Linked DNA regions of Homo sapiens. The protein of the gene in region 1 interacts with the protein of each later gene in a biochemical or structural test. Each region holds a gene or a part of one and is shown on either strand. Other genes may lie near its edges. The genes, in order: MAPT, TUBB3, LRRK2, EP300, AKT1, PPP5C and CASP3.

What was found.
Region 2: the proteins of MAPT (region 1) and TUBB3 form a complex in vitro, tested with the Homo sapiens proteins (3 studies listed by BioGRID, with this or other methods).
Region 3: of the proteins of MAPT (region 1) and LRRK2, one has a biochemical effect on the other in vitro, tested with the Homo sapiens proteins (3 studies listed by BioGRID and IntAct).
Region 4: of the proteins of MAPT (region 1) and EP300, one has a biochemical effect on the other in vitro, tested with the Homo sapiens proteins (3 studies listed by BioGRID).
Region 5: of the proteins of MAPT (region 1) and AKT1, one has a biochemical effect on the other in vitro, tested with the Homo sapiens proteins (3 studies listed by BioGRID and IntAct).
Region 6: of the proteins of MAPT (region 1) and PPP5C, one has a biochemical effect on the other in vitro, tested with the Homo sapiens proteins (3 studies listed by BioGRID).
Region 7: of the proteins of MAPT (region 1) and CASP3, one has a biochemical effect on the other in vitro, tested with the Homo sapiens proteins (3 studies listed by BioGRID).

What each region holds. Positions count from the first base shown.
Region 1 is NC_000017.11:46,023,554-46,026,193, forward strand, and holds part of MAPT (microtubule-associated protein tau), read left to right. Parts: intron 1-402; coding exon 403-618; 3' UTR 619-1,563; coding exon of another isoform or gene 1,564-1,635; 3' UTR 1,636-2,640. UniProt on the Homo sapiens protein: Promotes microtubule assembly and stability, and might be involved in the establishment and maintenance of neuronal polarity.
Region 2 is NC_000016.10:89,926,342-89,929,841, reverse strand, and holds part of TUBB3 (tubulin beta-3 chain), read right to left. Parts: intron 1-3,500. UniProt on the Homo sapiens protein: Tubulin is the major constituent of microtubules, protein filaments consisting of alpha- and beta-tubulin heterodimers. Microtubules grow by the addition of GTP-tubulin dimers to the microtubule end, where a stabilizing cap forms.
Region 3 is NC_000012.12:40,364,497-40,367,996, reverse strand, and holds part of LRRK2 (leucine-rich repeat serine/threonine-protein kinase 2), read right to left. Parts: intron 3,156-3,500; coding exon 2,947-3,155; coding exon of another isoform or gene 2,864-2,946; exon of another isoform or gene 992-2,863; coding exon 920-991; exon of another isoform or gene 354-919; coding exon 232-353; 3' UTR 1-231. UniProt on the Homo sapiens protein: Serine/threonine-protein kinase which phosphorylates a broad range of proteins involved in multiple processes such as neuronal plasticity, innate immunity, autophagy, and vesicle trafficking.
Region 4 is NC_000022.11:41,144,592-41,148,091, reverse strand, and holds part of EP300 (histone acetyltransferase p300), read right to left. Parts: intron 1,354-3,500; coding exon 1,276-1,353; intron 256-1,275; coding exon 146-255; intron 1-145. UniProt on the Homo sapiens protein: Functions as a histone acetyltransferase and regulates transcription via chromatin remodeling. Acetylates all four core histones in nucleosomes. Histone acetylation gives an epigenetic tag for transcriptional activation.
Region 5 is NC_000014.9:104,785,749-104,789,248, forward strand, and holds part of AKT1 (RAC-alpha serine/threonine-protein kinase), read right to left. Parts: intron 1-3,500. UniProt on the Homo sapiens protein: AKT1 is one of 3 closely related serine/threonine-protein kinases (AKT1, AKT2 and AKT3) called the AKT kinase, and which regulate many processes including metabolism, proliferation, cell survival, growth and angiogenesis.
Region 6 is NC_000019.10:46,353,587-46,357,086, forward strand, and holds part of PPP5C (serine/threonine-protein phosphatase 5), read left to right. Parts: intron 1-161; coding exon 162-403; intron 404-3,500. UniProt on the Homo sapiens protein: Serine/threonine-protein phosphatase that dephosphorylates a myriad of proteins involved in different signaling pathways including the kinases CSNK1E, ASK1/MAP3K5, PRKDC and RAF1, the nuclear receptors NR3C1, PPARG, ESR1 and ESR2, SMAD proteins and TAU/MAPT.
Region 7 is NC_000004.12:184,642,948-184,646,447, forward strand, and holds part of CASP3 (caspase-3 isoform a preproprotein), read right to left. Parts: intron 1,776-3,500; exon of another isoform or gene 1,596-1,775; coding exon of another isoform or gene 1,584-1,595; intron 1-1,583. UniProt on the Homo sapiens protein: Thiol protease that acts as a major effector caspase involved in the execution phase of apoptosis. Following cleavage and activation by initiator caspases (CASP8, CASP9 and/or CASP10), mediates execution of apoptosis by catalyzing cleavage of many proteins.

The DNA.
Region 1 (2,640 bases):
TCCTGGCCAGGCGCAGTGGCTCACGCCTGTAATGGCAGCACTCTGAGAGGCTGAGGCGGGCAGATTGCTTGCGTCCAGGAGTTCAAGACCAGCCTGGGCAACATAGCAAAACCCCGTTTCTATTAAAAATACAAAAAATTAGCCAGGTGTGGTGGCATGCACCTGTAATCCCAGCTACTCGGGAGGCTGAGGTGGGAGAATCACCTGAGCCTGGGAGGTCAAGGCTGCAGTGAGGTGAGATTGTGCCACCGCACTCTAGCCTGGGCGATAGAGCAAGACCCTGTCTCAAAAACAAACAAAAAACAGTCCCTGGCACTCTGGGCCAGGCCTGGCAGGGCAGTTGGCAGGGCTGGTCTTTCTCTGGCACTTCATCTCACCCTCCCTCCCTTCCTCTTCTTGCAGATTGAAACCCACAAGCTGACCTTCCGCGAGAACGCCAAAGCCAAGACAGACCACGGGGCGGAGATCGTGTACAAGTCGCCAGTGGTGTCTGGGGACACGTCTCCACGGCATCTCAGCAATGTCTCCTCCACCGGCAGCATCGACATGGTAGACTCGCCCCAGCTCGCCACGCTAGCTGACGAGGTGTCTGCCTCCCTGGCCAAGCAGGGTTTGTGATCAGGCCCCTGGGGCGGTCAATAATTGTGGAGAGGAGAGAATGAGAGAGTGTGGAAAAAAAAAGAATAATGACCCGGCCCCCGCCCTCTGCCCCCAGCTGCTCCTCGCAGTTCGGTTAATTGGTTAATCACTTAACCTGCTTTTGTCACTCGGCTTTGGCTCGGGACTTCAAAATCAGTGATGGGAGTAAGAGCAAATTTCATCTTTCCAAATTGATGGGTGGGCTAGTAATAAAATATTTAAAAAAAAACATTCAAAAACATGGCCACATCCAACATTTCCTCAGGCAATTCCTTTTGATTCTTTTTTCTTCCCCCTCCATGTAGAAGAGGGAGAAGGAGAGGCTCTGAAAGCTGCTTCTGGGGGATTTCAAGGGACTGGGGGTGCCAACCACCTCTGGCCCTGTTGTGGGGGTGTCACAGAGGCAGTGGCAGCAACAAAGGATTTGAAACTTGGTGTGTTCGTGGAGCCACAGGCAGACGATGTCAACCTTGTGTGAGTGTGACGGGGGTTGGGGTGGGGCGGGAGGCCACGGGGGAGGCCGAGGCAGGGGCTGGGCAGAGGGGAGAGGAAGCACAAGAAGTGGGAGTGGGAGAGGAAGCCACGTGCTGGAGAGTAGACATCCCCCTCCTTGCCGCTGGGAGAGCCAAGGCCTATGCCACCTGCAGCGTCTGAGCGGCCGCCTGTCCTTGGTGGCCGGGGGTGGGGGCCTGCTGTGGGTCAGTGTGCCACCCTCTGCAGGGCAGCCTGTGGGAGAAGGGACAGCGGGTAAAAAGAGAAGGCAAGCTGGCAGGAGGGTGGCACTTCGTGGATGACCTCCTTAGAAAAGACTGACCTTGATGTCTTGAGAGCGCTGGCCTCTTCCTCCCTCCCTGCAGGGTAGGGGGCCTGAGTTGAGGGGCTTCCCTCTGCTCCACAGAAACCCTGTTTTATTGAGTTCTGAAGGTTGGAACTGCTGCCATGATTTTGGCCACTTTGCAGACCTGGGACTTTAGGGCTAACCAGTTCTCTTTGTAAGGACTTGTGCCTCTTGGGAGACGTCCACCCGTTTCCAAGCCTGGGCCACTGGCATCTCTGGAGTGTGTGGGGGTCTGGGAGGCAGGTCCCGAGCCCCCTGTCCTTCCCACGGCCACTGCAGTCACCCCGTCTGCGCCGCTGTGCTGTTGTCTGCCGTGAGAGCCCAATCACTGCCTATACCCCTCATCACACGTCACAATGTCCCGAATTCCCAGCCTCACCACCCCTTCTCAGTAATGACCCTGGTTGGTTGCAGGAGGTACCTACTCCATACTGAGGGTGAAATTAAGGGAAGGCAAAGTCCAGGCACAAGAGTGGGACCCCAGCCTCTCACTCTCAGTTCCACTCATCCAACTGGGACCCTCACCACGAATCTCATGATCTGATTCGGTTCCCTGTCTCCTCCTCCCGTCACAGATGTGAGCCAGGGCACTGCTCAGCTGTGACCCTAGGTGTTTCTGCCTTGTTGACATGGAGAGAGCCCTTTCCCCTGAGAAGGCCTGGCCCCTTCCTGTGCTGAGCCCACAGCAGCAGGCTGGGTGTCTTGGTTGTCAGTGGTGGCACCAGGATGGAAGGGCAAGGCACCCAGGGCAGGCCCACAGTCCCGCTGTCCCCCACTTGCACCCTAGCTTGTAGCTGCCAACCTCCCAGACAGCCCAGCCCGCTGCTCAGCTCCACATGCATAGTATCAGCCCTCCACACCCGACAAAGGGGAACACACCCCCTTGGAAATGGTTCTTTTCCCCCAGTCCCAGCTGGAAGCCATGCTGTCTGTTCTGCTGGAGCAGCTGAACATATACATAGATGTTGCCCTGCCCTCCCCATCTGCACCCTGTTGAGTTGTAGTTGGATTTGTCTGTTTATGCTTGGATTCACCAGAGTGACTATGATAGTGAAAAGAAAAAAAAAAAAAAAAAAGGACGCATGTATCTTGAAATGCTTGTAAAGAGGTTTCTAACCCACCCTCACGAGGTGTCTCTCACCCCCACACTGGGACTCGTGTGG
Region 2 (3,500 bases), on another chromosome or scaffold:
GTAATCCCAGCTGCTTGGGAGGCTGAGGCGGAGAATCACACGAACTCGGGAGGTGGAGGTTGCAGTGAGCTTATGTCATGCCACTGCACTCAAGCCTGGGCAACAGAAGGAAACACCGTCTCAAATAAAAGAAAGAAAGAAAACTGCTTGTGGGTGCTTCTCTATGCGTGGGTGCCTCTGGTAGATGTGTGGAAGGCTGTGCCTGGGGAGGGGCCCCAGACTGGGAGGAGCTTCTTCTCACGGGTGCCCTGTGGTCTTGTTGAGATTTTCTCACGTGCACACGGTAGCTTTTCAAAGAAAATTTGTTAAAAATAAATGTTTTTAAAACCTTAAGAATAAACATAGTGTAATTATTGTAACGCGGACAGCATGGACATGGACCACCTCTGCTAACAGTGTCTCGGGATGCCCGTTCACCCTGAGACTGTTATCAGAGGTGCCCGTTCACCCTGAGACTGTTATCAGAGGTCATCTCTCCACAAAGGTCAGGGGTGGATTTCTTTCCATCTTTTGTGCATTTTTGTTATTGCTAAGTTTTATTCTTTTTGCGTTAAATTTTTAAATTACAAAAATGATTCAGGCTGGGTGTGGTGGCTCATGCCTATAATCCCAGCACTTTGGGAGGCTGAGGCAGGCAGATCACTTGAAGTCAGGAGTTCAGGACCAACCTGGACAACAGGGCAAAACCCTGTCCCTACTAAAAATACAAAAATTAGCCGGGCGTGGTAGCGCGCACCTGTAATTTCAGTTGTTTCAGAGTCTGAGACACGAGAATCGCTTGAACCCAGGGGGCAGAGGTTGCAGTGAGCTGAGATCAAGCCACTGCACACCAGCCTGTGGGACAAGAGTGAAACCCTATCTTAAAAAAAAAAAAAAAAAAGGCCGGGCGCGGTGGCTCACGCCTGCAATCCCAGCACTTTGGGAGGCCAAGGCGGGTGGATCACGAGGTCAGTAGTTCGAGACCAGCCTGACCAACATGGTGAAACCCCATCTCTACTAAAAATACAAAAATTAGGCCAGACGCAGTGGCTCACGCCTGTCTGTGGTCCTAGCACTTTGGGAGGCCGAGGTGGGCGGATCATGAGGTCAGGAGATCGAGACCATCCTGGCTGGCACAGTGAAACCCTGTCTCTACTAAAAATACAAAAAATTAGCCAGGCGCGGTGGCGGGCACCTGTAGTCCCAGCTACTTGGGAGGCTGACTCAGGAGAATGGCGTGAACCTGGGAGGCGGAGCTTGCAGTGAACCGAGATTGTGCCACCGTGCTCCAGCCTGGGCAACAGATAGAGACTCCGCCTCAAAAAAAAAAAAAAAAAATTAGCCAGTGTGGTGACGGGTGCCTGTAATCCCAGCTACTCAGGAGGCTAAGGCAGGAGAATTGCTTGAACCCAGGAGGTGGAGGTTGCAGTGAGCCGAGATCACTCCACTGCACTCCAGCCTGAGTGACAGAGTGAGACTCCATCTCAAACAAACAAACAAAAAAATCAGCTGGCCATGGTGGCTCATATTTATAATCCCAGCAGTTTGGGAGGCCAAGAGAGGTGGATCACTTGAGTCCAGGAGTTCAAGACCAGCCTGGGCAACATGGTGAAACCCTGTCTCTACCAAAAAACAAAAAAATTAGTTGGGCATGGTGACGCATGCCTATAGCCCCAGCTACTCAGGAGGCTGAGGTGGGAGGATCACTTGAGCCAGGGGGGTGGAGGTTGCAGTGAGCCTAGATCATGCCAGTCCAGGCGACAGAGTAAGAGCCTGTCTCAAAAAAAAAATACAGAAAGGTCCCTGAGGCATTTGGGGCTTGTCCAAGCTTCCCACCTACTGCTTGCCTCCCTAACACTCTCTTTGAGGATCCCCCATTAATTTAGTTGCTGGCAGTCCACTTGAGTCGGGGACCTTGCTCCCCAAAGCACTGGGACACCCCAAATTTATGGTTCCAGGGAACCCACAACCACCAGCCCCTGTAAAGGAGGGGTGGAGAGAGTAACACATCTATGGGAAGTCCTCTGCAGAGCGAGGCACAGGGCAGCAGGAGCAATGGAGCAGAGTGGATTCAAGACCCAGCACGAGCACAGCTGTGGGCCAGGCGCGTGCCTCGCAGGACCTGTTTTCTCATCTGTGAGATGAACGTGTGAATGGTGCCCACATCCAGGCCTTAGCACAAAGCTTGACATGAAAACATTCAGCACATGTTGGCTTCATTTTGTTCAAATGTTTTAGATACTATTTAAAGTTTTAAAACCATATGCACAGGTCACTTAAAAAAAATGGACCAGAAGGATAGAAAAAGAAATTTGTTCCCACTTGGATAGAGAGAGGTGGCTAGATGGGCACCAGGTTTATCTGCAATATTTAAGGTTTTTTTTAACCAGGAGAATATATTAATTGCTTTTGTAGTTAAAATTAATAAAATTATAATTTGAGATAAAGTAATAAAATATATTGTTCCTTTTTTTTTTTTAGATAGGGTCTTGCTCTATTGCCCAGGCTAGAATGCAGGGGCATGACCTCAGCTCACTTTAACCTCTGCCCACCTCCCCCAGGTGATCCTCCCACCTCTGTCTCCCAAGTAGCTGGGACCACAGGCCGGCGTGCCTCCATGTCCAGCTAATTTTTTTTGTTTTTTATTTTTTGTAGGCACGGAGTCTTGCCATGTTGCCCAGGCTGGCCCTGAAGTGCTGACCTCAGGTGATCCACCCACCTCGGCCTCCCAAAGTGCTGGGATTACAGGTGTGAGCCACCGCACCTGGCCTATGTTACATATTTAATAAACAATAAAATATAATTTTATAAACTAAATTGTTAACATCACTACAGAAAAGGAAATCGGCCCGGCGTGGTGGCTCATGCCTGCAATCCCAGCACTTTGGGAGGCTGAGGCAGGTGAATCACCTGAGGTCAGGAGTTTGAGACCAGCCTGACCAAGATGGAGAAACCCCATCTCTAGTAAAAGTACAAAATAAGCCAGGTGTGGTGGCGGGCGCCTGTAATCCCAGCTACTCAGGAGGCTGAGGCAGGAGAATAGCTTGAACCCAGGAAGTGGAGGTTGCAATGAGCCGAGATCGCGCCACTGCACTCCAGCCTGGGCAACAAGAGCCAAACTCCATCTAAAAGAAAATAAGAAAAAAGGAAAATTGTGGCCAGGCGTGGTGGTGAGCGCCTGCGGTCCCAGCTACTCGGGAGGCCGAGGCTGCAGTGAGCCGAGATCGCGCCTCTGGACGCCAGCCCGGGCGACAGAGCCAGGCCTCCTCTCATAACCAAAAACAAAAACCTGGAAACACAAAGCAGAACCCGGCGTTCGAGGCCAGGCGCTCGGCCCGGGCGCTGTCCTTGGTGCTGACCTCGCGCAGCGCTTGGGGTCCTGGGGAAAGCGGGGCCGGGCTTTGAGGGCAGTGGCCAAGGCAGGTGGGAGCGGGGGTCCCCGATGAAGGGGCTGCGAGACTGGGGCCTCCAAGCCCCTCCAGGACCCGAATGCGGTTCCCGCCCGGCCCGCGGCTCCGCAG
Region 3 (3,500 bases), on another chromosome or scaffold:
AGTAACTGGTATTTATAAGAAATATAACATTGTGTTTTAAATAGTTCTTTAAAATACACATTTACTGGTAAGTATTTTTACATATATTTAAATTAAAAATAATAACATTCCTTCATACACACGAGCTATTTCAAAAAATGTGAGTACCCTTTCCATGTGAACATTTTTAAAATAAATATTTACAAGAGGAGAGAATAATTTTCCTATCCAAAGACAATTCCTATTTCTCTCTTACTCAACAGATGTTCGTCTCATTTTTTCAGCTAATTCTTTTCTCACTTCAATGTGTTTTTCTAAATTTTGCACTTCATGTGGAAGATTGATGTCCCAAACGGTCAAGCAAGATTGTATCTCTAGAAAAAGAAAAAAATGAAATCATGTTTCAAAGATCCATCATAAAACATTCTTATTTTATTTCAGTTTGGCTCATGTATTTTTAGTTGACTTAGATAAATGTAAATATAAACACAGCTATAACTAATGTACTAAATTATTATTTATAAAAAACTATACTTGGAAAAGTTTTATAATACATTATAGAAACTATTAAATTTCAAATAGAGTATCAACATTTAATAAATTAACATTTCATATTCTAAAAGAAATAAAAGCTTTTTCAAACACTGTTCAAAATTAGACATTATGTAGATATAGATAAGTTGTAAAAAATATTCACATTTCGTTTAAGGTTGAGCTAGTGATTGACACCTCTACTTCAGCTGAAAATATAAATATTTAACACTTCATATCACTTGTAATTTTGAAAATTTATGTCTAAGTTCTTTACACTATAAACTACCAATTAAAATTCCTGATTATACCATATGTAATATTTTCTACAAATTTATGAAACACATAATATGTTACCATCATTCACATCATTGCCCTGTTTGGAAAACAGTATCCTTCTAAATGTTACCTTTCTGCTTTTGTGTACCTTCAGTATTTTTCCGGTTGTAGCCCAATACCAGCATGACATTTTTAAGGCTTCCTTTACAAAAACAAAATATGTAAGTTTTCTGTTAAAACTATATATTAAACTGGCCTGAAAAAAAAGTAAAGTTGTTCATAGTTTAAGACACAAATACCTTGGAACTGAATTCACAATTCTATTTTCTAGGTGACCCTTCAATTATATTGAATAAAGACCAGCATTTTTTTAAAAAATAACAAAATCTGTGATCCACTCCTTGCTGCAATTCTTAATTATGTGAGTCTGAGAAAACAGCTTAACCTTTCTATAAAATAGGCTCAGTATTTATACATTACCCTTCCCAAAGTTACAATGTTAAACGAGGTAATGTGTGTGAAAAGTTCTTTGGATATGGTAAGGTACAAATATGAGTATTTAGTACAAATATGAGTATTTAGATGGACACTTAGATGGATGGATATACTGATACTATGTCAAAATATCATATTTTCTTTTCAAATCATTCACTAATTTATTCAACAAATTTGCATCAAAAGTCTTCTATGTAGGCCCTAGGCTAGATCCTGGGAAAAAAGGGGTAAACAAAAACACACTAACCCAACCGTCTTGGAGTTTATATTCTAGTGAAGAGACTAGCATTAATGAAAAAAAAATATGACCATGATCAAAACTATGCAAGAAAGCTGTTATGGGAACCCAAAGCGGGAACTTTGACCTAATCAGTGTTGGCTTCTCAGAGGTTTTGACACAGGAGCTAACATTTCAAAGCATATGAGTTAAATAAGCATGAAAAAAAGCTATGTTAACTAAGCAAAGAAATAAACAGCATGTGCAAATCCCTGAGGCAAAATATAGCATAGTAATTGAGAAGAACTGGATGTTCATCTAGACAAGCAAGATCTGGTAGGAATGTGGTAGATGATGGAGGCAGGAGAGGTACAGTGAAGCCAGCTCATGCAGCACCTTGTAGGCTATCCTCCAATTGATCTTTATTTTAAAATCAAACTATAACCCATAGACATTCCACTATAACTTCAGTTATAAGCAAGCTATTTGGGTCCCAAAGTACATACAATTCAACTAGAGAATGCAACAACTTTGGTAGAATAAGACTACTGAGACAACCTATTGAGAGACCTACTGCTCTGCTTGTGTGGACATGTATCTTAATAGTTTACAGTCATTAAGAGCATCTAATTGTAACTCCTGTGCAACTCTAAAGTCTATAAATGAAAAATAGGTGAAGGTGCTAGAAAAACACATGTTCCTCTTTCACATATACTTGCAATGAATATATTTTCTTCACCATGTTCAAAACATTCATTATTTGCTAAAGTTACATAAATTCTAGTTTTTTTCAGAATTAAACCCCATAGTGTCGTTTTTGTAAACTTTTGTATATATGCTATTATTGTTATTTTCTAAAACAAATTATTATCAAAGGAAGACGCAAATATATTTATGCAGAAAATATATTTTATGTGCTATCACAATTTTATCATATTTAAATATAAAAATAGAAGCAAAAAAAGACAAAGTTTGAGTAAAATATGATTTGTCAATATTTGTAGGTTGTGCAGTTCAGCATGTATTGCTGCAAGAAAAAAGATTTGTTATAGAATGAAAAACCAAATGAGATTCTTTAACAAGCTGGGAGGCTAGACTATGATTAAAACAAACATTTTCTTTATTTTCTTTGCTCAAAAAGTAAAATATATTCAATACCATGTATTTCCCATTTTTGCCTTAGGTAAAAAGGAAAAAAGCAAGTAAGACCCAAACTGAGTGTTCAGCTGCAGTAATCTGCTTCTCTTGTGGGACTGAGAGCATTTACTCCCTCCACTTCTGTAATGACCCTATTCACAATTTATACCAGTCTTATGTTTCACTGTGTGACCCTCCAAGACCATCCATATGACACTGGAAAGTTCAGAGAAAATGTAAACGTAAAATAAAGGCATATTTTATAAGACTTAGAGAATATGAAAAATATCTAAAGGAAAGAAACTTGCCTAGCTGTGCTGTCATCATGACTCTGACCGAATTACAAAAGTTGTAAATTACACGTATAAGTCGACGAGTTGAAAGATCCAGGAGTAAAATATGGCCTCCTCCAGTTCCTATCCAAAGAGCAGTGTTCTTCTGAAGGCAGAGGGTTTTCACTCTCCCAGAATAAGACATTTTGTGTTTTGATTCCTTGTTTTCTTTTACCATTACCTCCCTAGAACCATAAAGTATACATTAATAATTTTACCACCAATTAAGAGATAAATGCTATTTACATATGATAACATAAACAACATTTTAAATTATTAAAACATGACACCACCACCATTATGCATCATTAAAATTATACAAAGCAAATTTTGCTAAATACAGATGCCAAAGAGCCACACTTCTTTACTTGAAGCATAAATTATCAAAGATAACAATAGCCCTTCATTTTCAGGAAATTATGAATAAGAGGGATACAATTTTTATAAATACCAAAGCTATCTAATTCAGTAAAAATAGCATACATGTGCCCAGGATAAAGAAAAAAAAAAGTTAGAGTCAAAAGTTTTAC
Region 4 (3,500 bases), on another chromosome or scaffold:
AGTAGAGTTAAATACAGAAGAATTACAGAAGAACTAGGAGTTATGGTCTGTTTAAATGACTGTGAGAATTTATAAAGTAGGAACAAACAGGATTTTCAAAATACCAGGTAAAGGCCAAAGAGATTACCAAAGACGTCAAACTAACCGGGTTGAGAGCTCCAGGTTGAGCCAACTGTCCATGGTGCTGAAGAGGAGGGGTTTGCCGGGGTACAATAGGGGGCTGGGCCATGCTCATCTGGCCAAATTGATTCAAACCTGTGAATATGAGCAAAATGTTAGATCTGAATGCCTTTGTGAAATTGAATAATAAAAGATAGAATTCTTATGTCTGATTCTGTATCTTTTTTTTTTTTTGAGACGGAGTCTTGCTCTGTCGCCCAGGCTGGAGTGCAGTGGCGCAATCTCCGCTCACTGCAAGCTCTGCCACCTGGGTTCACACCATTCTCCTGCCTCAGCCTCCTGAGTAGCTGGGACTACAGGCGTCCGCCACCACACCCAGCTAATTTTTTGTATTTTTAGTAGAGACGGGGGTTTCACTGTGTTAGCCAGGATGGTCTCTATCTCCTGACCTTGTGATCTGCCCGCCTCAGCCTCCCAAAGTGCTGGGATTACAGGCGTGAGCCACCGCACCTGGCCCTGATTCTATCAGGACTAATAAACTGGCTTTCAACCTTCTAAGTATAAATAAATCTGTCTCATTCACAGTAGCAGTAAACAGACATTATCAACTAACAGGATCTCCAAACTGAATTTTACAAATTTTACAATCTGCTTTTTTTTTTTTTTTTGAGACGAAGTCTTGCTGTCACTCAGGCTGGGGTCCAGTGGCGCGATCTCGCCTCACTGCAAACTCCGCCTCCTGGGTTCAAGTGATTCTCCAGCCTCAGCCTCCAGAGTAAATGGGATTACAGGCCCGTGCCACTACAACCGGCTAATTTTTTTGTATTTTTAGTAGAGACAGGGTTTCACCACATTGGCCAGGCTGGTCTCGTACTTTGACCTCAGGTGGTACACCAGCCTCGGCCTCCCAAAGTGCTGGGATTACAAGCGTGAGCCACCATGCCCAGCCTGCAGTTGTTTTTTAATGGATACTTGATCATTTAATGTCACCTGCCCTGTGATCTGCCAGCCAACCTGCTCTTCACCCCCTCTTCCTCTATGGGCAGGTAATCATGACACTTGCTGTTGGCATAAAGCGGGTGTTCAGGTAGCAAGTATTATCTTGCAGTACACCGGGGATTCTTTTAAAATAAAAAAATTTTTTTCACTATTTACCAGATTGTGGAGTTATTCGAGGCATCATCTGGTTTGGCACACTGCCACGGATCATACTTGGGTCAGGTAGAGGGCCATCTAGAGTAAAAAAGAGAAATAAGTATCTTTGCACCATCTTCCCTTAACCAAACAAAAACTCACTGCACACACAAACCCCACAAAATATTTTTAATAATACCTTTGAAAATTGAGTATGAATCACAAAATAAAGCTCTGAACTAGACAGAAGCTTGAAGAAAATGTTATTTCTGGAATACAGAAAAATGCCTCCAAGTGGATTTGTTGGTATTCCTTTATGAGCCCGGGTGCTTTCAATGTTGATAGAAAAATAAGCTATTGAAGCCATTATAGGCCAGGCACAGTGGCTCACGCCTGTAATCCTGGCACTTTGGGAGGCTGAGGTGGGTGGATCACTTGAGGTCAGGAGTTCAAAACCAGCCTAGCCAACATGGCGAAACCCTGTCTCTACTAAAAATACAAAAAAATTAGCCAGGCGTGGTGGCAGGCACCTGTAATCCCAGCTACTCAGGAGGCTGAGGCAGGAGAATCGCATGAACCTGGAAGGCGGAGGTTGCAGTGAGCCAAGATCACACGACTGCACTCCAGCCTGGGCGATGGAGCAAGACTCTGTCTCAAAAAAAAAAAAAAAAATTGAGGCCATCATAGCATTTAATATGTTATTGTTTAACAAAGTCTGAGTCTGGTTGGCATGCAACAGAGTATCTCCATGGATAATAGCTATGAATCATGTCTAATGGTGGCCGAATTTGATCATGTAGCACAACGTTTTTATGCACATAAACTGTGAACATTGATTTTAAATAATATGCATATTATACCACACTACATATCATGTACCTCTTAAATACAAAAACAGAAATAATTCTTAAAAAAATAAAATATCCTGTAATCCCAGCACTTTGGGAGGCCGAGGCGGGCGGATCACGAGGTCAGGAGATCGAGACCATCCTAGATAGCACGGTGAAACCCGTCTCTACTAAAAATACAAAAAAATAGCCGGGCGTGGTGGCAGGCGCCTGTAGTCCCAGCTACTCGGGAGGCTGAGGCAGGAGAATGGCGTGAACCCGGGGCATGACCCCGGGAGGTGGAGCTTGCAGTAAGCTGAGATCGTGCCACTGCACTCCAGCCTGGGCGACAGAGCGAGACTCCGTCTCAAAAAAAACCTAAAATATAAATACATAAATTCTAAGGTCTTTTTCCTGGATTATCTGCACATGCTCTAGTGTAGTACTTTCAACATAGTGCACAGAGAAAATATTTTTACAGCACCCTCGGAAAGGACAGATGTCTGTAGTGACCTGGCTCCACCCTGGCCATACCCTCCATCAAGGGCTGTACATTCAAGCCTCAGGCATAGGAGAGGAAGACCTGCTGCTCTTCTAAGGAGATGTCCATCCCTTCAGACAAATTTCAACCTTTAGTAAATGAGCAAAACTGAGAGAGGAAATGCTCAACATTTATTCATATAAACTTTTATCTGTAACTCTGCAAGCTTTATAAGAAGTATATGCATAATCCATGCTCATTACATAAAAATTAAAAATCAATAGAAAAATGAATCAGGATCCAACAAATGACCTTGAGATAAACCTTTCCTCTTCCTCCCCACACATATCTGTATTCACGCACACTATCTACAAAACAATGTTTTCACCTAAGATATGAGTAACTTTTTTTTCAAGTCAACAATATGGATAGGTGTTCCAAGCTAAATGGCAAGTGCCAAGCAGCTAATACCAAGTAAAACTGTTTTAAGTACCCAAAACAATAGAGAATGGTGAGGACTGAAGTGGAGAGAAAACACAGCTCTTCTAGAGTCAGCCATGAGTGCAGCTATAGACAGGTGTCACTGTAGGAGAAAGGGGGTCAAGTCTGCCAGACATGTCCTTTTTTTTTTAAAGCAGCCAGAAATTCAGACTTTTTAAATGCAAAATCTTCTGATTTTTAAGTATTTGAGACTAATCAAATGAAAATGGTTTAAAAATAAAACCGCAATCCTACTGCCCACATTTGCCCCATATGATGCAGATACGAATGTATCTATTATTGCTCCATGAGGCAGCTCTTGTCATTTTAAGGAAACTTGATGAATTATTTAAAGGAACATCTTGATACTATTTTTTAAGATAAATATTTAAAGGCTGGGCGCAGTGGGTCACACCTGTAATTTCAGCATTTTGGGAGGCCGAGGTGGGTGGATATCT
Region 5 (3,500 bases), on another chromosome or scaffold:
TGGAGCAGGCCTCAGCCCGACACACACACCCCGGGAGGAACATGGTGCGGGCAGGCGGCACCACCATGACCCCGTCCACCTCGCTGAGGCACAGCCGGAGGCGCTGGGGCCTCTCTTCCTGCCACTCCAGGGAAGCACCTGGGTCTCAGCTTTCCATTCTCCTGGGGCTCTACTGGGTGGGGTACTGGGCCTCCCTGGTGCTGCCCCTGACAGACCACCTGGGCCTGGATGTCCTCCCCCACAGGCACTGCCCGTCACCCACCCCTCGGGCCGGCAAAGGCACCCCACCTGCCACACACCCATCCATCGCAGAGCCCAGCACATCCCAAGACCCTGTCCCTGTCCCTGTCCCCCACCTCATTTTTGGTCTGCCCCAAACAAGCCCCACCCATGTCATGGCCCACCCTGCCTACTCAGGACCCCTGCAGATGAGGCTGCAGCCCCTCCCTGGCGCCTCCTACTCTGCCCCCGCCCACTCTCCCCATAACTTGCAGCAGGCTTTGCCAAGTGCCCTCCACCCAGTGGGTTCCCAGGGCCCTCACCCTCGCTCCCTGCGTGGGAGGAAGCTGGGCATGGGGACAGCACACAGTGCCTGCTGCGAGGGAGGGCTGGCCACAGTGTCCCACGTGTAGACACTGCCCTCGGGAAAGGAAGTGGGCACGGGCACAGGCTCCTTCCGGGGCTCGGCCGGGGGCACGCAGCCATGCCCACAGCCCCTCCCTCCTCCCGTCTCTCTTGGGCAGGGCCCCTGGCGGTTGAAGGGCTCCAGTGCTGGCCTCTCAATCCCTGACACCCCAGGAAAAGTGCCCTGCATTGCTGGGGGAACTGGAACCAGGCAGTAGGGACCTCGTCCTCCACACCGACCATGGGAAGCACCCGCCACAGAGGGGCCTTCCATCTCCCCACCATCTTGTTTCTGCCCCAACTTGGAGCCACGCCTGGGGCAGGAGGGCCCCCAGAGCACGGCCAGCTGTGGAGGGTGCTCCTTCTGATCCCCCGGCCTGCTGGGACATTGTGGCCCTGACCCCCGTGGCCTCACCCCACACCTCACCAAGCTTGTGCAGCTCAGCGTCTCCGCGCCCTACACCTGGCTGCTGTGCCCCTGGCCCCAGTCTGTGGGGAGGCCAGCCAGACCCTGGCCAGCCGAAGGGCCTCTCTGCATTCTCCAGGCCCAGGGAGCAGCCACCTCCCCGCCAGGCCTGCCCAGGGGGTGTCTCCACCCCTGAGCTGGACAACCAGCTGAGGGCCTGGGCAGGTGGGCCCGCCAGGTTACAGGGTATGGGTGGGGTCTGCAGTCACCGGGCCCGCCTGGGGGGTGTGTGAGCCCAAACACAGCGCCCCAAGGATCCCACCCCAAAGCCCGCAACATTGGCAGCAGAGTCACCCATGAACTCCCAACCCCCTCAATTCCAACGTTTCTGAAATCCAAACCTATCATTCCTTAAGGTTCAAGGAAAACACACCTAAAGGCGGCATGGCAGGGAAGGGAACTCCCGTTGGAGATGAGGAAGTAAGGGGCCTAGGGTTCGCCTAACAGCCCCATCCTGGCCTGGAGCCCCAGGGCCCTCTGCCAACCTGCCCGGGGCCCCAGCGCTGGGCTGGGGGAACCTTCTCCTGAGGCCATGGGACTAGGCACAATGGTCCAAGCAGACAGAAGCAGCAGGCAGCTGCCCACCCAGGGTGGCCTGGGGAGCAGGCCCAGAGCCACAGCCACAGCCACCAGTCTCAGCTATGGGAGGGCCCGAGGGCAGGGTGCTGGCCCCAAGCCGGGCCGGGTGTGCCCAGGCAGAGGGGACGCCAGCGGGGGCCGCGCCAGTTCCCTCCGCTCAGCCTCGTGCAGGACTTCTAGGAACCCGGCCTGATGCAACCCGGCCAGGCTTCTCCTGAGAGTGGAAGGTGTACGGGGGTCTAGGCCCCAGCACAGGAATCATTCCACCCACATTCTGTCCACTCTCCTGGGCCTCAGTTTCCCTTCCCGGAGTCCAGCCCCCCACAGGGCATCCCTGCCCAGAGAGGGCCAGTGACCAAGAAACACACAGGAAGAAGAGCTGTCCACTCAGGAGCCACCAGGCGTGGGGGCTAAGGTCCAGGGCTGGGGCCAGCAGTGACCCCTCACCCCCACTCAAGGCCACCTCGGCTTCCTCTTTTGTTGTTTTTGAAGTGAGAACTCAACAAGCTCCCAAAACAGGAACCTCCCTGATGCTGGCGGCCTCCACCACAGCCATGCCATGACCTCCACCAGCCTGTGCCTCCTGCCCCTCTCCCGGGTAGGCCCAGGGCTGTTGGGACCCCCACTCTCTGCCCAGCCCTCCCACCAGGAGCCAGCACACTTGCCTCCCCATCTCTGTCCCTGGCCTGCCCACGGGGGCCGTTCCAGACCCTCAACGCTCCCCCAGGGGAGGCAGAGCTTGGCACTAACCAGCCCAGGGCCCGCGGGTCTCACACTGAAGCCACCTAGACGCAGCCTGGGGTTGACCCTCACCTGACAGCCTGGGAAAAACTGAGGCCCAGGAGGCACAGGCAGCCCTGGCCTGGAGCCCAAAGGTTCCCACAGGCTGAGGGGAGAGTCTGCGGGCTCCCTCCCTCAGGGTCCTGCTGGGCCCCTCATCCTGGCGGGGTAATGAGCAGCCTCCATCTGCACACAAACAATTAGCCCTGCGGGGCCCTCCGCAGCAGCTGCTCTCTGGAGTGGGCTCAGAGTCCCCCACAGACCTCTTCTCAAGGGTGTTTACTCAGCAAAGCCAAGGCCTCCTCCAGGATGAAGGGGAGTGGCCTGTACCCTCTGAGGTCCCCCACCTCACGCAGGGACCCCAGGACCAGCTGGATGGCTGAGCAGCAGCTGGGGATGCAGTGAGGTTCTATGTCGCTCACCAAAGCGAAGTAACACACTGGGGTAGGAACCACTCTCTCCCTGCCTCAGTGCCCCCCCGCAGGGACAGCCAGTGCCAGGACTTCAAGGCGGGGAGAGGGGGTGGGAAGGAGGCCCAGCCTAGGCACCTGCTTGGGGTCAGAGACCAGCCTCCATACTCCCCACCGGGACGCCTGGGGCTAACTCAGCAGGAGTGGTGAGGGGGCTGCCCTGAGGCCTGGACTGGGGGGTCTATGCCAGGCATGGGCCCGGGGTAGGGCATGGCAAGGACTCAGATGTCCGGAGACTGGACCCTCCGTGAGCCGCATGGACACACGGTCCCGTGTCACCCGGGCCCGGCCAGGCACCCAGATCCGTGGCTTGGACACGCTGCCCACACACTCAGGAGCGTCTGCCGCGTAACCCACGCGCCCCAGGCAGCTTCCCTCGACCCCCGCCCACTCGGCCTTGGCCTGCTGGGTCACAGCCTGCCGAAGGCAGCCAGGCCTGCAGCTCTTCCCCGGCCCCTCTCGGACAGCGACCAGCCTGAGGGAGTCCAGGTGGTGCCCCTGCGGCCGGCACCCACTCCTGGCCTAGGCCCAGCCCTTTCTCGAGAGCCCAGAGCACCTCATCCTGGGTCCCAGCATCCCGG
Region 6 (3,500 bases), on another chromosome or scaffold:
GGTTGGGACAGGCAGGAGGGGCAGGCTGAAGAGATGTCTCTGGGCTCAGGGTAGCCCTCAGCTTCCCCATCTGTGAACAGGGAGACTGGGCGTCACCCAGCCCAGGGCCTGTCCTCGCAGGGTTGGAGCACTGCCTCATGCCTCTTCTTCTGTCTCCGCAGCCAAGGACTACGAGAACGCCATCAAGTTCTACAGCCAGGCCATCGAGCTGAACCCCAGCAATGCCATCTACTATGGCAACCGCAGCCTGGCCTACCTGCGCACTGAGTGCTATGGCTACGCGCTGGGAGACGCCACGCGGGCCATTGAGCTGGACAAGAAGTACATCAAGGGTTATTACCGCCGGGCTGCCAGCAACATGGCACTGGGCAAGTTCCGGGCCGCGCTGCGAGACTACGAGACGGTGAGCTGGGGAGTGGGCCAGGCCTGGCACCTGAGCCAGGCAGATACTGAGGGCTGGGCTGGCGGGGACGGGTGTGAGGAGCCATTCACTCCTCTACTTACCACTCAGCCAGCCAGCAAGTGCCTGTGGGGCCTTGGGCCCAGGCCAGAGTACCCAGGCCACAGCTCTGCTCAGCCATCTCACATTTTGTGACCCTGAGCCAGTTACCCCGCCTCGCCACACCTTCCTTTCCATATCCGTGAAATGAGGAGAACAAGAGGATCAGCCTCAAGGGTAGCGGTGAGGAAAAGTGAGCTTTTGCCTTTCACACGAGTAGACCAGTACTTGGCCCGGGGTCAGTGTCCTGTGATGGTTCACCTGATGGTTACTGTCATTGTTAGTGCTGGTGCTGGACAGGAGCCACACAGCCTCTCTTCTTCTGGTGGAGCTTGTCTTTCAGGGGCAGGCAGAAAACCCACCACTGAATAGGTTAGCAGAATAATTGCAGGTGAGGATCTGCACTTTGAAGAAAAGAGGAAGGGCAGTCGGGCACAGTGGCTCACGGCAGTAATCCCAGCACTTTGGGAGGCCAGGGTGAGAGGATTGCTTGAGCCCAGGAGTTTAAGACAAGCCTGGGCCACATAGGGAGGAGACCTCATCTCTACAAAAAATACAAAAATTAGCCAAGCGTGGTGGCACGCACCTTTAGTCCCAGCTACTCAGGAGGCTGAGGCAAGAGGATTACTTGAGCTCAGGAGCTCAAGGCCGCAGTGAGCTATGCTCTCACCACTCCACTCCAGCCTGGGCGACACAGTGAGACCCTGTCTCAAAAAAAAAAACAAGAAGGGTGATATGCTGCCAGGGACAGCAGACAGGATATGTGTGATATGCTGATGAGGGAGGGGACCTAGGGCACAGTGAGAATTCGCTAGTGCCCTCACCCACCTAATGAAAATCCTGACGGTATGAGGCTCTGCAGAGCGAGCACACACCTTCACACCAGGTGTGCTCTGCATCTTCCTTCAGGGAGGCTGGCTGAATCATTACAGCACCCTGGGACGTGGGAACTGGGATTACTCCCCTTGCACAGATGAGGAAACAGTCCCTAAGGGGTGAAGTCACCTGCCCAGTGACCCCCACCTGGTTAGTAGCAGAGCTGGGATTTGAACCCAGGAGGCCTGGCCTCAGGGCCTTATCTCTCCCACCTCAGAGTTCGCTCCCTGAGACGGGGCCGTGCGCTTGTCCTGCGCATGGGGATGGTGCAGCAGGGGGCTTGGTCAGTGTGTGTCGAGAGGATTGTTATCCTGCCCCCCGACACAGACACACTTCACTCCCTCCTTCCCTTGCAACCATCACACTCGGAGCTGCTTGTGTCGTGTAGGGAGGGGCAACCAGGGAGCTGGGAGCCGCGAGTCTGCAGTTGGTCGCGGGGCTGAGAAGCACGAGTCTGCAGTCGGTGGAGCCAGCTCAGACACTGTCCTGGCTGTTGGCCGCTGGCCTGGGGTGGAGGGTGGACTTCAGGCCAGGTGAAGGCTTGAGCTAAGCATGAGTCCAGGGGACACATGTTAGGATGGGGGCAGAGATGTGGCGGGGGGTTAGGGCGACACCTAGAAGGGTGGGGGCAGGGGCAGCAGAGCAGAGGCCTTCCCAGCTTGGGCTCCCAAGCCATTCTTGGCCAAGCCCCTCCCTCATTGTCTCTTCCTGTCCTAATCTAGAAAATGGTGACAAGAGGAGTGGCCGCCTCCGGATGGCTGTGGCTGTGATGACATGGTTGAGTAAAGGTCACGAGCTGCAGGGCTCAGTAATGAGTAACCAAGGACAGTCGGTGTTGGGTTGGGGCAGGGCTCCAGGTGGGAAGGGGGCCTGGGGAGACAGTGGGGCAGAAGAGAGGAGCCCCAAGGACAGGTTTAGGGCAGGGTCTTCATCTCGTGTGGGGCTGCAGGAGCATCTTTCCCCAGGGTAAGGAGCAGGGGCTGCAGGCAGGGTCTTCGTCAAGTGTGGGGCTGCAAGAGTGTCTTTCCCCAGGGTAAGGAGCAGGCTTTTCAAGACTCTGGCCCAGTCTAGGGCCCAACCCCGCATACTCCCAACCCCGCATACTCCCTGAGGCTGGGCTGGTTGGCTTCAGCCATCTTGTGGGTGTGCCACGTCTGAGCTGTGTCCCAGGCCTGGCGGATGGCAGGGAGGGTTGAGGGGGTGGGGAATTCAGAGTCTTTTACAGAATACCCAGCACCTAAATTGTCATGGCCCATTTCCCCATGGGGGCTCTCCCAGCAGCATTGGGGACCCCCACATGAACATGAGGGCTTACCTGTCATCAGGCCATCCATATGCCTGCAGGCCTTCAGCCTTGCTCCTTTCTGCGCAGTTCTTCAGGCTCCATGTGCCCTGGGGCAGTTCATCTTCCCAAGACTCTACCTCCTGCTTGCTGGATGCTAGAGTTTCCTCCTAGACCAGAAGCTCGCCAGGGAAGCAGAGCAAAGACGTGACCTTGGCCTTGGGCGGGGGAGCTCCCCTTAGCCTCGGTTTCCTCAGCGGTCTGCTCACTCTGGGCCCAGCACTGCTGGGAGCCCTTTGTGCACCTGAATTCAGCCTGAATTCAGACTGAGGCCTAGAGAGGAGATGTCCCTCCTCCAAGGTCACCCAGCAGGGAAGTGGCAGAGCTGAGACTTGAACCCCTAGTCCATGCTTGTAACTGTTTCTGGGCCACAATCAGTTGAATAGCTTCAGCACTTTTGTCTTCATCAAACAGAGAATTAAAAACGGTTCATTGTTTGGAGGAAGTGTGTATAAATATTGTTTTGTGGAAATGACTTTTCATTTACACAAGTACAGATGAGTGATGGATGTGATATAAAAATCCCTATTTTACATGTGGGCTGCAGGCAGAGAGTCTGCGGTCACCAGTGCAGGGGCTAGATGGGGCAGGCTCTGGGCTCAGGACGCCTAGGTTCACAGCCAGCTCAGATTGGGTAGCAGCTGCATGGCTCCTAGTGCCTTTTTTCTCAGCCTTAGTGTCCTCATCTGTTAAAGGAGGTGAGAATATAGGAATAACAACCAAAGTGTTTTTTCTTTGTTTTTGTTTTTTGTTTTTTGTTTGAGAGAGAGTCTTGCTCTGTCA
Region 7 (3,500 bases), on another chromosome or scaffold:
CCTTGTGACTGGTAATGGAAACTTTAAATAGTGACCAGCTTTTCAGAGTACTGTAATATACAAATACTATACAAATACTATAGTGGACTTCATTAACTTCATTATTAGTATCTGAACAACATACATTGCCTCAGTTATCAGTTTATTTTGATATACTTCTAAAAATTTATATGATGGTAGATGAAATCCTTACAGCATCAGACATGCGCACATTTGCTCTCTACTTGTCATCATCCGCTTTTTCCACATGAAAGCACCAAATCCACACTCCTGGGAGCAGAGCTTTGGTTCCCGCAAAACTCACTGAAGTGCTGCTTAGCATGACATCACCTCCATTAGCTAGTGCCCAGCAGGGTACAAATTATTCTGAGGATGGTGATCTCATCTTAGAAGGATAAAAAAATCACATCCTAAGGGAAATAGTCACTGCCTTAAATGAAAACAGAAATTTTGCCTGTAATCCCAGCACTTTGGGAGGCCGAGGCGGGCGGATCACAAGTTCGGGAGATCAAGACCATCCTGGCTAACACGGTGAAACCCCGTCTCTACTAAAAATATAAAAAATTAGCCAGGCGTGGTGGTGGGTGCCTGTAGTCCCAGCTACTCAGGAGGCTGAGGCAGGAGAATGGCGTGAACCCGGGAGGTGGAGCTTGCCGTGAGCCGAGATCGCGCCACTGCACTCCAGCCTGGGCGACAGAGTGAGACTCCGTCTCAAAAAAAAAAAAAAAAAAAAAAGAAAACAGAAATTTTGGTTTTTAGAACATTCTTATTTGACAAAATATAAATAGGAAAAATAATTGTGATTTAAAAGATTTATCCTGGCATAGCAATGGACTTAACATGAATTGTTTCTTACTGGGCTGATGTGTGTGTAATTCTGTTCAATTCAGGATGCTGCTGCTAAGAAAGGAAATTTCTGAACACATATGTTTATGGCAAAGTTCTCAGTAGACCAACTGATATTACTTAGAAACCTGGAACTCAGGTCTCAGAATCACTTGTCTAGTTCCTGGATCCCTTAACACTTGCCACCAACGCTGTAACAGTCAGGTCTTCAAACACAAAAAAATATTGTCAGTATAAATTTACTTCACTCTAAAATAGATACTTAGACATTTCAAGCTGTGTTTTCCTACACAAGTAAAAAACTAGAATGTTCTCCCTATTTACATGGTGGTTAGCCAACTACTCATTACAATACTGAAGTAAAGCAGACTACAACATCTATAGCATTAAGGCAGAGAAATAAAAATTAATTTCTAAAGTGAAATTTCTATATTAAGCTATAAAGTATTAACAATTTGAAACAACCTGTTATTAAAGAGTGAATGTGTGAAAGTGTGCCTGTGGTGGGGAATTCAAAAGGAGATGTTAAATTAGGATTGCCAGTCTCTAAAACTGAAAGAAAAAATACATTATTTTACAATAGGATTTAAAATATTTGATAAAGATTTCTCAGGGACAAATACTATAGTGGACTTCATTAACTTCATTATTAGTATCTGAACAACATATATTTTCTCAGTTATCAGTTTATTTTGATATACTTTAAAAATTTATATGATGGTAAAGGAAATCCTTACAGCATCAGACATGCGCACATTTGCTCTCTACTTGTCATCATCCGCTTTTTCCACATGAAAGCACCAAATCCACACTCCTGGGAGCAGAGCTTTGGTTCCCGCAAAACTCACTGAAGTGCTGCTTAGCATGACATCACCTCCATTAGCTAGTGCCCAGCGGGGTACAAATTATTCTGAGGATGGTGATCTCATCTTAGAAAGATAAAAAATCATATCCTAAAGGAAACAGTCACTGCCTTAAATGAAAACATTTATGTGCCAGTCTCTAAAACTGGCAATCCTAATTTAAATTTTAAATCTCTAAAATTCTTAATCAGCTCATTAGGCTGTTGCTGGTTCCTGTCCTACAGGGAAACTCTGAGGTAAGAAATAAAATCTGGTCTCTGCCCTAAGGGTTTTTAAATCTCAAAGTGAGACCTAAAAAACAACTGTTAGTTTCTGAATCATGTCCATGAATGTAAATGCTTTTAAGAAACATTTACTAGTAAAGATTTACCAAAACAGTAGCCAAAGGATGTGGCGTGAGAGCTGTGTGCAAAGCGCTGCGTGATGACTGTCCCTCTTAATGCTGGCTCATACAGGCTAGGTACTGAACTCAAAGTACAAGCGTATTTTCGTGAGTCCTCCCAATGACACTCTGAGGCATAAGGATCCCCACTGCAGAGTTCAGGTGACTGAGGCTAAGAGAAGTTAATGAACTTTAAAGTCGCACAGCCAAGATTCAAACTAGGATCTTCCCAACTCAAGAGGGCAGACTCCCACTATTCTGTAGACAGCTTAGTACTATATAGGAATGATAACACTTAACTTCAGGGAAGGAAACAAAAATCCATAATCTCAGAAGCTTTAAATAAGACAAAGAAAATAAATAACATGATAGAAAGTTACTGCAGAGATAACAAAATAACATAATGCACTGAATTCTAATGAATGAAAAAATGGCAAAAATGACTATGGCATTTCTGATGCGACTAGGTAGTTTACTTTTGTGTTTTCTTTCCTTTTTTAAAAAAATTTAACAAACTTCGCATGTGGCATTCAATTTACTTCTAAAGTGAAATAGGCCAGACACAGTGGCTCGCGCCTGTAATCCCAGCACTTTGGGAGGCCAAGGTGGGAGGAATGGTTGAGATCATGTGTTCAAGACCAGTCTGGGCAACACAGAGAGACCCCATCTCTATAACAAAGTAAAAACAAGTAGCCTGGCATGGTGGCACACACCTGTAGTCCCAGCTACTCAGGAGGCTGAGGCAAGAGGATTACTTGAGCATAGGAATTGGAGGCTGCAGTGAGCTATGATCGCACCACTGCACTTGAGCTTGGGTGACACAGCAAGGCTGTTTCTAAAAATAATAATAATAAAAGTAAAATAACTGGTTTCATGTTCAGCGTTAGGTATATGTCATTAAAACATATTCCCTGTATCTCTGTGTTCCTCCAAAGGAAAAGTGAAGCCTGTCCAGCAGGACTTCTGGGGAGATTACACTTCTGTCAAACAACTTGAAAAATATCAGGATTATATTTATTACCTGTCAGAGAGGACAAAGTCTCAAAAGCAGTCACGTTTCCAGATTTAGCAAATGAAACAGAAAGAACATCTGTTTCACAATAGTTTGGACAAGAAAAGACTTCAGTTGTGATGTACCAGAGGTTTTATCAAAATCTTTTCCCATCTGGTCTCTGAATTCATTTGAGTACGTATAAGAATTATCAAACTGGCGATTGTAACTGGGCCTGGTGAAGTCAATCTTTTAATATTTGTTATGTAATTAAGGTAAAAATATGAGAACAGGAATGTAAAATCAAATACAGAATACATTGAAATAAGTTCCATTGTACTATACAAACAAACCATCCTTTCCTTTCCTCTGGCAAGGGCCACGTGACCAGGAAGACAGTACAGAGCACTCTCCACTA